3 linked regions of the Homo sapiens genome follow. The protein of the gene in region 3 purifies or fractionates together with the protein of the main gene of each other region. This does not show direct contact. Each region holds a gene or a part of one and is shown on either strand. Other genes may lie near its edges.

Region 1 (3,651 bases), on a different chromosome or scaffold from region 3:
TCAGAGAGCAGGCGTGGAACAGAAATCCTACAGCTGGGAAGCTTATTGTTTTCTGAAATTTCCAAATTGTTTAGGTCCTAGGCTGACTGAGTACTCCCTATGACTGTGTCAGAACCAGGCCTTTGAAGATATTCACATACCTCTGGCCCGGGTACCCCTCAGAGTATTTGTTATTTAAGCAAGAGCCTAGGGCCTCCAAAACTGCTCGGCTGGCGAAATTCTCCGAGGCAATCAGCTCCAATCCAACCCTCTGCCGGTTACTCTCCTTCTTAATGATGTTGTAAACCTTATGAGAAGAAAACAGATGCTTGATATTTGGAAATTTTAGTTTAAAATTTTGCTCTGATCCAAATTACAACCTCCTAAAGAGAAAAGACACTCTTTCACATTATGGAATAGAATGAATCCTCCTCAAAGGTTTTAGTATCTGAGAAAGCACTAATCAATGAATTAACAAAAACAAAATGATAGCCAGGTGCGGTGGCTCACGACTGTAATCCCAGCACTTTGGGAGGCCGAGGCTGGTGGATCACCTGAGGTCAGGAGTTCTAGACCAGCCTGGCCAATATGGTGAAACTCCATCTCTACTAAAAATACAAAACTTGGCTGGGCGTGGTGGCTCACGCCTGTAATCCCAGCACTTTGGGAGGCCGAGATGGGCAGATCACCTGAGGTCGGGGGTTCGAGACCAGCCTGACTAACATGGAGAAACCCTCGTCTCTACTAAAAAATACAAAATTAGCCGGGCATGGTGGCACATGCCTGTAATCCCAGCTACTCGGGAGGCTGAGGCAGGAGAATCACTTGAACCCGGGAGGCGGAGGTTGCAGTGAGCCGAGATCACGCCATTGCACTCCAGCCTGGGCGACAAGAACAAAACTCTGTCTCAAAAACAAACAAACAAAAAAACAAAACTTAGATGGGTGTGGTGGCAGGCGCCTATAATCTCAGCTACTCGGGGGGCCGAGGCAGGAGAATCGCTTGAACCTGGGAGGTGGAGGATTCAGTGAGCCGAGATCGCGCCATCGCACTCCAGCCTGGGAAACAAGAGCGAGACTTCATCTCAGAAAAAGAAAAACAAAATGATTGAAGAGAAAGTTATCTTTAAGTGTCCCACCTAATTTTTAACACCACCATCCTGTTATTTTTATTCCTACATTTCACCAAGTTTCTCCCTCCCTGAACCTTATTCCTTGTTCTTCTTCCTTAAAAGAAAAGATGCTTTAGGCCGGGCGTGGTGGCTCACGCCTGTAATCCCAGCACTTTGGGAGGCCGAGACAGGTGGATCACGAGGTCAGGAGATCAAGATCATCCTGGCTAACACAGTGAAATCCCGTCTCTACTAAAAAAAAAAAAATAATACAAAAAATTAGCCAGGGCGTGGTGGCTGGCACCTGTAGTCCCAGCTACTCGGGAGGCTAAGGCAGGAGAATGGCGTGAACCCGGGAGATGGAGCTTGCAGTGAGCTGAGATCGCGTCACTGCACTCCAGCCTGAGCAACAGAGCAAGACTATATCTCAAAAAAAAAAAAAAAAAAAAAAAAAAAAAAAAAAAAAGGCCGGGTGCGGTGGCTCACGCCTGTAATCCCAGCACTTTGGGAGGCTGAGGTGGGCGGATCACGAGGTCAGGAGATCGAGACCATCCTGGCTAACATGGTGAAACCCCACCTCTACTAAAAAATACAAAAAATTAGCCGGGTGTGGTGGCAGGCACCTGTAGTCCCAGCTACTCAGGAGGCTGAGGCAGGAGAATGGCATGAACCCAGGAGGTGGAACTTGCAGTGAGCTGAGATCACGCCACTGCACTCCAGCCTGGGCGACAGAGCAAGACTCTGTCTCAAAAAAAAAAAAAAAAAAAAATTAGCCGGGCATGGTGGTGGGTGCCTGCAATCCCAGCTAGTCAGGAGGCTGAGGCTGGAGAATCCCTTGAACCCAGGAGGTGGAGGTTGCAGTGAGCCAAGATCACGCCATTGCACTCCAGCCTGGGCAACAAGAGTGAAACTCTGTCTCAAAAAAATAAATAAACAAGTAAAATAAAATAAAATAAAGGTGCTTTCAGATGTCTAGATAGATCTATATTCCCTGTGAACTGTCAGGAAAGGGTCAACTGTCAGTGATCTCTCCCCTTCTCGCTTTTCTCCAGAGCACCCTGCACAGTGCTCCACACTTTGAAGAAACCCAGCAATCTTTAAATTTACCCTCAAAGGATTTGTAGCCATTTTGTCTGCCACCACCTCTAAATCCAGCAGGATAATACTCATTTCAAGGCTGTCCCTAATTAATTTGTAATTAGAACTAAAGATTAAATGAAGGCCTCCAACATAAAAAAATCTGTGAAGACCCCAAAAATCTCACCTCAACATCACTGTCTTTGAGGGGTTGTGCCAGCATCTTGTCATGTGAGGACCACAGGTCAGCATCCTTGTGGGCCCCGTTGACTGGCATCGTCATTGCACTGGTTCGAAGCTGCCTAAAAAAATGGGAAAAACATGTGTAGCTTCCAGAATTAAATTTATTTATTTTATTTATTTTTTATTTATTTTTGAGATGTAGTCTTTGTTGCCCAGGCTAGAGTGCAGTGGCATGATCTCGGCTCACTGCAACCTCCGTCTCCCAGGTTCAAGAGATTCTCCTGCCTCAATCTTCTGACTACAGGCGCATGCCACCATGCCCGGCTAATTTTTTGTATTTTTAGTAGAGACGAGGTTTCACTGTGTTAGCCAGGATGGTCTCAATCTCCTGACCTTGTCATCCGCCCACGTTGGCTTCCCAAAGTGCTGGGATTACAGGTGTCAGCCACCGCGCCCCACCTATTTATTTTTATTTTTTTGAGACAAGACTCTCACTCTGTCACCCAGGCAATGGCGTGATCTTGGCTCACTGCAACCTCCGCCTCCTGGGTTCAAGTGATTCTCCTGCCTCAGCCTCCTGAGTAGCTGGGACTACAGGCGTGCGCCACTACGCCTGGCTAATTTGTGTATTTTTCGTAGAGATGGAGTTTTATCACGTTGGTCAGGCTGGTCTTGAACTCCTCTCAAGTGATCCGCCTGCCTCGGCCTCCCAAAGTGCTGGGATTACAGGCGTGAGCCACCATGCCTGGCCGCAGCATTATATTGAATCAAAGCTCATCGAAACCTGTTAGTTCTATCAAGTTGATAAACTAACACTTTTTTTAGCCTTTCCCTCAGAATTGCTTGGTAAACACGAGCATGTTCTATTGCAAAACCACCATGTGGAACTTCTGGTTCCTTTCCAAACTGCAGACGTCAGCTCATCTCCCTCAGAAATGAGAACTGACCCTCCTCCCCACCTGCAGGGAGCCCAACTCCGCCTCCTCTCAGCCAAACTTCTCATGGATATAGCTTATCTCCCACAACTAAACTAAGTTCCTTGAAGGTAAGGACTGAGTGCTACTTTTTAAAAAATCTCCTGCGGTACCCAACACTGCTATACATGAAGAATATTTTCCGGCCGGGCACGGTGGCTCACGCCTGCAATCCCAGCACTTTGGGAGGCCGAGGTGGGCAGATCACAAGATCTGGAGTTGGAGACCATCCTGGCCAACCTGGTGAAACCCCATCTCTACTAAAAATACAAAAAATGAGCTGGACGTTGTGGCACATGCCTGTAGTCCCAGCTACTTGGGAGGCTG
Region 2 (3,651 bases), on a different chromosome or scaffold from region 3:
GGAAGCAGGGGAGGGACTGGGAAGAAGGGACAGAACAGAAGGGGTTGGGGGGACCCACTCACGCCAAGGGGCTATAAACTGCCAGAATTCTTGCTGGGGGTCAAAACCTCTGGTGGAAAAAATGTCCCATTTAAACCTCAAGGAAACTGGGACAAGACTTAGTGATTGGTGATTGTTAAAGATTGGTGGGAAGGGAAGACCTGGCTTTAAATTTTGCTGTAGAAACATTTTTTTTTTTAACCCAGTGTCTAAAGGAATTCAGATTTGGGGGAAAGAGCATAACTTATGGCAAGTGTGCAAACTAAAGTCCTTTAGAGAAGCTCCTAGAGCTGGGAACTGGCTGTCAAGATAGCAAGCTGGGCAGCTCCTCCCCAGGGTAGGAGGGGCCAGCCTGGCCTCTGAGATGGGATCACAGGAGGGGCAGGCACGCCTTCTCTTCCTAATGCCTGGAAGAGAGGGAAACCTGGGGAGTGGGGAGCTGGTCACAGAAACATGAGAGAGTTGGAACTGGCATTTCTGGACTACTGGCTTGAAAAGGTTCTAACTGAAAACAGAGAGGAGGGAGAACATGCCTTGATAAACTCACAAATCTGGAGACACGAAAGTAGCTATGTGTAAGGTGAACAGCTCATTTTTCGCATACAGCCACTGGGAAAGGGCAGAGAACACAGAATCTGGAGAGGAACATAGAGCAGGGGCCACAAACACGGGAATCTGAGATTTGACAGTGGATGAAAAGGTGGCTGCAGAGTTGTCCCTGAGCTCAGGGGAGATGGAGGTGGCAACAGACGGGCTGCCTACTTCCCAAGACTCAGACCTGTCAGTACTGGCCAGTGGGTGAACATGACCAAGAACAGGCCAAGGACAGTGATGCAAGTAGGCCTAGCACAGAGGTCCTTGGTGAGAAAAGGACTTCCCTGGGCCGAGAACTACATCAAATCTCAGGAGAGGTCAGTGGGATGATAAGGACAGGAATCATTAAGTCCTAGATCCAGAGGCTTAGGAGCATGTACAAGATTCACATGTGCAGGCCGGGCGTGATGGCTCACACCTATAATCCTAGCACTTTGGGAGGCTGAGGTGGGCGGACTACCTGAGTTGAGGAGTTCAAGACCAGTCTAGGCAACATGGTGATACCCCATCTCTACTAAAATACAAAAAATTAGCCAAGCAGGGTGGCGTGCACCTGTAATCCCAGCTACTTGGGAGACTGAGGCACAAGAATTGCTCGAACCCAGGAGGTGGAGGTTGCAGTGAGCCGAGATCGCGCCACTGCACTCCAGCCTAGGCGACACAGTGAGATTCCATCTCCAAAAAAATTCACATGTGGGGATGTATGCAAGTGTGTAAGTGTACAAGATGTGTGTGGGCATGAGCTTTGTGAAAATGGACACAGTTTTGTATGAGTGTCATCATGAGTTCCATAAAGCATACAAGGTCTGCAGGACACGCATGAGGGCTGTGTGAAAGTATCTGAGACCCTCACATGAGTGCAAGCCTGGTGGGATAAACATGCACAGGCCCAGCCCAAATTGTCAACATAGGACCTTGTAAAGAGAGGAAGGGCCTGTGGGGCCTCACTTGCAGTGCAGGAGGAGAAGACAGAAGGGAAAACAGGGACGGGCTCACCTGCGGGCGGGTGAGGGGGGCCGCAGTGGTACCAGCACAAAACCTATGCTCTGCAGATACTGCACATATTGCTGCAGGAAAGCCAAGCTCAGCTCCTTCAGCCAAGGCTCCTCACGGGCTCCCGGGGGCGACACATCCAAGGATTCACAGCTTGTGGGGGCCTCTCGGCTCCCAGACCCTGACTCAGGGCGATGGCGCCGCTATGAGAGTAAAGATCAAGGAAGACTCTCCCCACTGTCAACCATCCTGCTGGGGATGGAGGAGGGGGGTCACTGTGGGGTAAGCAAAGGTCTGCTAGAAGTCTGGGAGTCAGCCTTACCTGCCCGTCAGGGGGTCCAGAGGTCTCTGGGGGCCCATGCAGCCAGGCAGCTGGGTCGAAGAGCATGGCTGTTGCACAGTAATGCACCAGGCGGGATGACTGCTTCAGGGTCTCCAGCTCTCCAGCCTGGGGAAACAGGGCAGTGAGCATGGAGCAGTGACGGGGCAGGATCACAGATACTCAAGGAAGATGCAAGCTGGGGTCACTCACACTGATGGGCATGGTGGCTGGGGTAGAACGCTGCTGCCAGGTTACAAACAGGTTTTCCATCTTCATCTGGCGCTCCAGCTCTGAGGGTTGAGGGCATTAGTAGTAGCCCCAGGCATTGTCACTCCCTTCCTCCCAGACTCCACAGATTTCCTGTCCCTGCTGCCTGGCCCAGTACCCTCACCTCTGCGCTCTGCCATCTTGATCTCTAGGAACTGTTGTCCATGGTAGGTGACAGGATCAGGAGGTCTGGGCACAGGACCAAGTACGGAGCTGGGGCGGGCAGCCGTGATATCCCTTAGGGCCTCGTCAAAGGGGAATGTGTCCAGGGGAAGAGGACCCCCACCACGAGAGGACCCACTCAGTCGGCCCTGCTCACGGCTCAGCGGGGGACTTGCACTCCGGATGAGGGTCTCCACTTCCATGGTCGGCAGCAGGAATGGGTTTGGCTCCTGAGAGATGGAGCATTGCAATGGGTTCATAGCCTTTGCCCTCGGACCCTCTCTCTCATCCCAGGGCTTCCTCTCTCAGACTCTCCCTCCCCACTACCTCTGCCCTCAGTCTGTCCCATCTTTCTGGCTTCTGAGCTGGTTTTTCCTTTAACTGACCCCTCAGTAGCCAAAACTATAGGAAGAACCAGAGCAGCAGGCACCTTTTCATCTCGCACGGGGAAGTCCAACTGGCCATAATGATGGAAGAGGCCAAGCTTCTGGCTGAGTAGGCAGAAGATGAGATGGGCTCGTGCATTCTGCCACTGCACCAGGCGAACCAGCGCTCGGCCCAATGCTGCCCCCAGGTCTGGAGCCCAGTTGTAGGTCAGCAGCTGTAGCTGGAGGTCGGGGGTCAGGGTCAGTGAGATCACGGAACCCCTCTTCCCACCCAGTCCCTGGCCCCATATTTACCTTCTTGTCCACAACCTCTAGTAGCAAGAGCCTCTGCCGGGGAGCATTTCGCCCTGAGCTCCCATCACCTCCTGGCTCGAAGCGCTGCATGGCTTTGGCAGCTACAGGGTGGGGGAGGGGCACAATAGGGGCCTGGGAACAGATCCCCCTTGATCCCACCCTCCCCTCTGCAAGGTTGGAGACCCCACCAGTTACTCTTAGCCTACCCGCCCCCCGCCCCCCCGGGCCATGCCCTCACCCTGCTGTGTTGGTCTCCTCCACTGCAAGAAGTTCCTTCCCAGAAGCAGCAGATGCCGCTCAGCTGCAGGGCGGGGAGAGGGGCCCAGTTGCCCAGGGGAACAAGGGCCGAAGATCTCTGGCTCTGAACCCCTATTGAAAGGGAGGACAGACAGAAAGGCCATCCATGACACCACTCCCTGGCCTAGCCTTCACCTCCCTGGGCCTTGTTTCCACCTCTCCTAGCTCAGCTTCCTCAGGTTTGGCTTCCTGTAGGCCCAGCTTTTAGGAAGTCTAGGGGAGTTCCCTTCAATTCTATAGGATCTACACTCACAAATGCTGCTCAAAGATGCGGACACTGGTGTCTCCAGCCATTGA
Region 3 (3,651 bases):
CATGCATTGTCAAAACTTACGGAATTATATACTTTAAAAAGACACAATTTACTGTACATGAATCATATCTCAATAAATTTAATTTTTAAAAATGATGTGCCACAAGCATGGTATATGTTACAAAATTAAGATTATATTTCATTAAATTTGAGGGCCATCAAATTCTCTAAAAAAGCAAAAAAATACATGAGTATCAAAAGTCTTAAACTTTTAGAAATTCAGAACAATTTATTTGATTCTGACTTAGGCATATTGCCAAATACGGGCCCTAAGATGCCTTATCTGTAGATGACAAGACTACCAAATTCAAGTTCAAAGTACCTTTAATGGTCATTTTCTCTAACACAAGGTAAGTAAAGAAACTCATGACTAAGTGCAAACAAGTTCAGCTACCATTTCAAGGCATTAAAACAAAATGTTCAGAATTCAGATTGTCTTACATAGTTAAGCCATACAACGACCAGTCTTCTCAGCTCTTGAGCACCTGATACAGTGACACATCTAAAAGTGGGATAAAAAACATCCAAGGTGTTTGGTAATTAAGAGCCAAAAAGTAACCAGAAAACAAAAAGTTTGAAAACCTGCATCTTATAGCCAACATGTTATGAATAGTCATTTCTCTAATGTGGGAAGAAAACACCACCAATATTCTGACATGCTAAAAAGGTTGGACTTTTCATATAAAAACTTAGAAACACAAACAGCAAAAGGGGCAAAAAAAAAAAAAAGAAGAAAAAGAAAAAGTCATTTTAATACTGAGAAGACTACAGAACAGTCTAGGTAAAAATTCCAGGAGCCATCCAGTCTTTAATGTCATAGTCCTTAAATGCATTGAAGCAGTATAGCTACAGATAAAAGAGCTGTTATTTTTAAATTTCTGTATTTTACAAGCTTAGTGTGTTTCCTATATGCCAAATGTTGTTTTAAGTGCTTTTCAAATATTAACTCATTTAATTATAATACCAATCCATTGAGGCAGATATTTTACTTTATAGATGAGGAAACTGAAGTAGAGCGATTAAGTAAACTTTTCCAAGGTTACACAACAAACCTGGTAGTCAAAAGCTAAAGTCATGCTCCTAACCACAAACTTTGCTTCTCTTCATAAGTTTTTAATTCATGAACTTTCATGGATATGAGCAAAGCTTTGCAACAGAGGAAAGTACACAGACTCTACTAACCACAAACAAATGGTCTTTTGTCAGTCAAATGCAGTTATTTAGTCTCTGCAACTGCATTATTTGTTAGATTTCTGGCAGTGGTTCTCAACTCTGGCTGCCAATTCTGGCTGCACATTGGAATCACCCAGAAGTTTCATTTAACTGGTCTGGAGTGGCAACTGGTCATTTAGTTTAACACTCCCCGGATGAATCCAACGTGTAGCTATGGCTTAAAACCAATGGTGTATAGCAAGGTTGTGAGCTTAAAAGCCTGGCAAAATAATATAGAGAGCAGGGGGTTGGGACAACCTTAAGAGTCCAATTTAATTAACAAAAAAAAAAACACAACAAAACAAATCAATGCATGGATTAAACTTAATATCTACAAACACTGGCTCACGGTGTATCTTCTGTTCTTGGAACAGCCTTTTATTATAAACATATCAACGATAAAAATACTTACTCCAAAATGCAAGTCTGTGAACACATCCTATAAGGCAGATGGAAAGAAATCAAGAAAAATCATAACCAATGTCACCAACATGTTATTCCCTTGTGAAAGTGAACTTCACAGGTGGGTCTATGACCACACAGAGCACTTGCTTAGTTTAATTTTCAACTTTCAAACAAAAGGATTTATGAACAGCCTTTTGGAACTTAATTTTCATATGTTCAATTAAAAAGTCTTACCCTAATTTCTATATAAATGGAAATGGATACTCACATGCTGCTCTAAATGCATGAAGATTAACCACCTATTCTAAAATAAACACAGCAATGGGTATTAGTGTATCTACACTTAAAGCACAATAGGTCAGTATAGTTTAGTGGTTGTCAGATGTTAGATTTTGTAACTAGTATAAATTTCACTTCAAATTTAAGAGACTGATATATTGGGGTTGAAAAATTTTTATCTGTAAATATAAACAAATACACAAAACTATTACTTTTTTTTTTTTTTTCTTTTTTCGGGATGGAGTCTCGTTCTGTCACCCAGGCTGGAGTGCAGTGGTGCAATCTCGGCTCACTGCAACCTCCGCCATCCAGGTTCAAGTGATTTTCCTACCTCAGCCTCACAAGTAGCTGGGACTACAGGCACATGCCACCACACCCGGCTAATTTTTTGTATTTTTAGTAGAGACAGGGTTTCACCAAGTTAACCAGGATGGTCTCTATCTCTTGACCTCGTGATCCACCCGCCTCGGCCTCCCAAAGTGCTGGGATTACAGGCATGAGCCACCGTACCCAGCTCACTATTACCATTTTTATTACCAACATACAGAGAGACATACATTATACCCACTACAACATCCTTATGAGAACAAATAAAGATACCATAATGAGTGTAAGGATATATTTACCATTATATTTATAGAAAAATAGAATGCTATTCAGAATAACTTGGACCATTTAAAAAAGGGTAAAATTAATCTAATATACTCAATTTAAGAAGACATGAGCATAAATTAGAAAACATGGGTATCCACAAGTTAAAATTTTAAAGTTATGAATATAAAAAGATAAAACTCAACTATCTGGAAATATTTACATTAGCTTCTTCTGTGCGTGTGCCTTAAATCTACAAGGCCTGGTGCTATGTACTAAGGCTACAGAGATAAAAGGCAGAGTTTTACTCAAGAAACTAAGTTTAGTAGATAAAACAGACAAATGAACTGGTAAGTTATAAATACCATAAAGGTAGGCACAATCATGCTATGGAAGCACAAGGTAAGAGGGGCACTTAGGTAGGGGCACTTACTTATGTAGGATTCTGTGCTAGGTGCTGTACACAACTGTGTTTGTGGGGATGGGGTTTGTGATGATTAATAAAAACCCAGATCTTTGTTTCAAGAGTTTACATTACAATAAACTGGCCTAAAAGACCAACCACGAAGAGGTCATTTCAAAAGAGGCCTGAAGATCGGACTCTAAACCATAATCCTTAATAATCTAGATTTAAAGTTGTTAAAAACATTATGCTGCTAAACTTCCAGTACAACAGTACTTCTGATTTAAAGAGGAACATTTTAGAAAATTTTACTTGAATTGGTGGGGGAAGGAAGAGGGGCAGGGATAATGCCCAGGAGCCATCCAATCCTTAATGCTACCCTGAAGACATAAAGACAGAATAGCTACGGTTAACATCTCTATTATTTTTGTTACTTAAGGAGGGTAGGGATCCTGCTGCTTTTGCTAATTAGCAAGGACTAGTAAAAACAGGAGCTCCAAAAGTACTGTATGATAAAACAGCAAAGTCTCCACTTAATCGTCAAATGTGAACAATGTATGAGATTGCTCTAGGAAATTAACAAAAATACTGAAGAAGATATGATTATAATAGGAACTATGTGACAAATGTGCCTGACTTATTTAGACACTATAGAAATGGCTACCAAAAGATAGAAAACTAATATAAAAATGTGTCAAAACTATCAATGAAGAAATTTAAAGACAACTTCTTAAAGTGTGCCTTAAAAACAAGTAGCTCCTT

What was found.
Region 1: the proteins of SAMTOR (region 3) and SHMT1 purify together in Homo sapiens (affinity purification with mass spectrometry; 2 studies listed by BioGRID and IntAct, with this or other methods). This does not show direct contact.
Region 2: the proteins of SAMTOR (region 3) and SZT2 purify together in Homo sapiens (co-immunoprecipitation; 3 studies listed by BioGRID and IntAct, with this or other methods). This does not show direct contact.

Annotation. Positions count from the first base shown.
Region 1 is NC_000017.11:18,353,532-18,357,182, forward strand, and holds part of SHMT1 (serine hydroxymethyltransferase, cytosolic), read right to left. Parts: intron 2,470-3,651; 5' UTR 2,451-2,469; coding exon 2,355-2,450; intron 287-2,354; coding exon 141-286; intron 1-140. UniProt on the Homo sapiens protein: Interconversion of serine and glycine.
Region 2 is NC_000001.11:43,441,775-43,445,425, reverse strand, and holds part of SZT2 (KICSTOR complex protein SZT2), read right to left. Parts: coding exon 3,608-3,651; intron 3,427-3,607; coding exon 3,296-3,426; intron 3,159-3,295; coding exon 3,058-3,158; intron 2,985-3,057; coding exon 2,808-2,984; intron 2,608-2,807; coding exon 2,340-2,607; intron 2,239-2,339; coding exon 2,159-2,238; intron 2,075-2,158; coding exon 1,949-2,074; intron 1,830-1,948; coding exon 1,630-1,829; intron 1-1,629.
Region 3 is NC_000007.14:112,929,814-112,933,464, forward strand, and holds part of SAMTOR (S-adenosylmethionine sensor upstream of mTORC1), read right to left. Parts: intron 1-3,651. UniProt on the Homo sapiens protein: S-adenosyl-L-methionine-binding protein that acts as an inhibitor of mTORC1 signaling via interaction with the GATOR1 and KICSTOR complexes.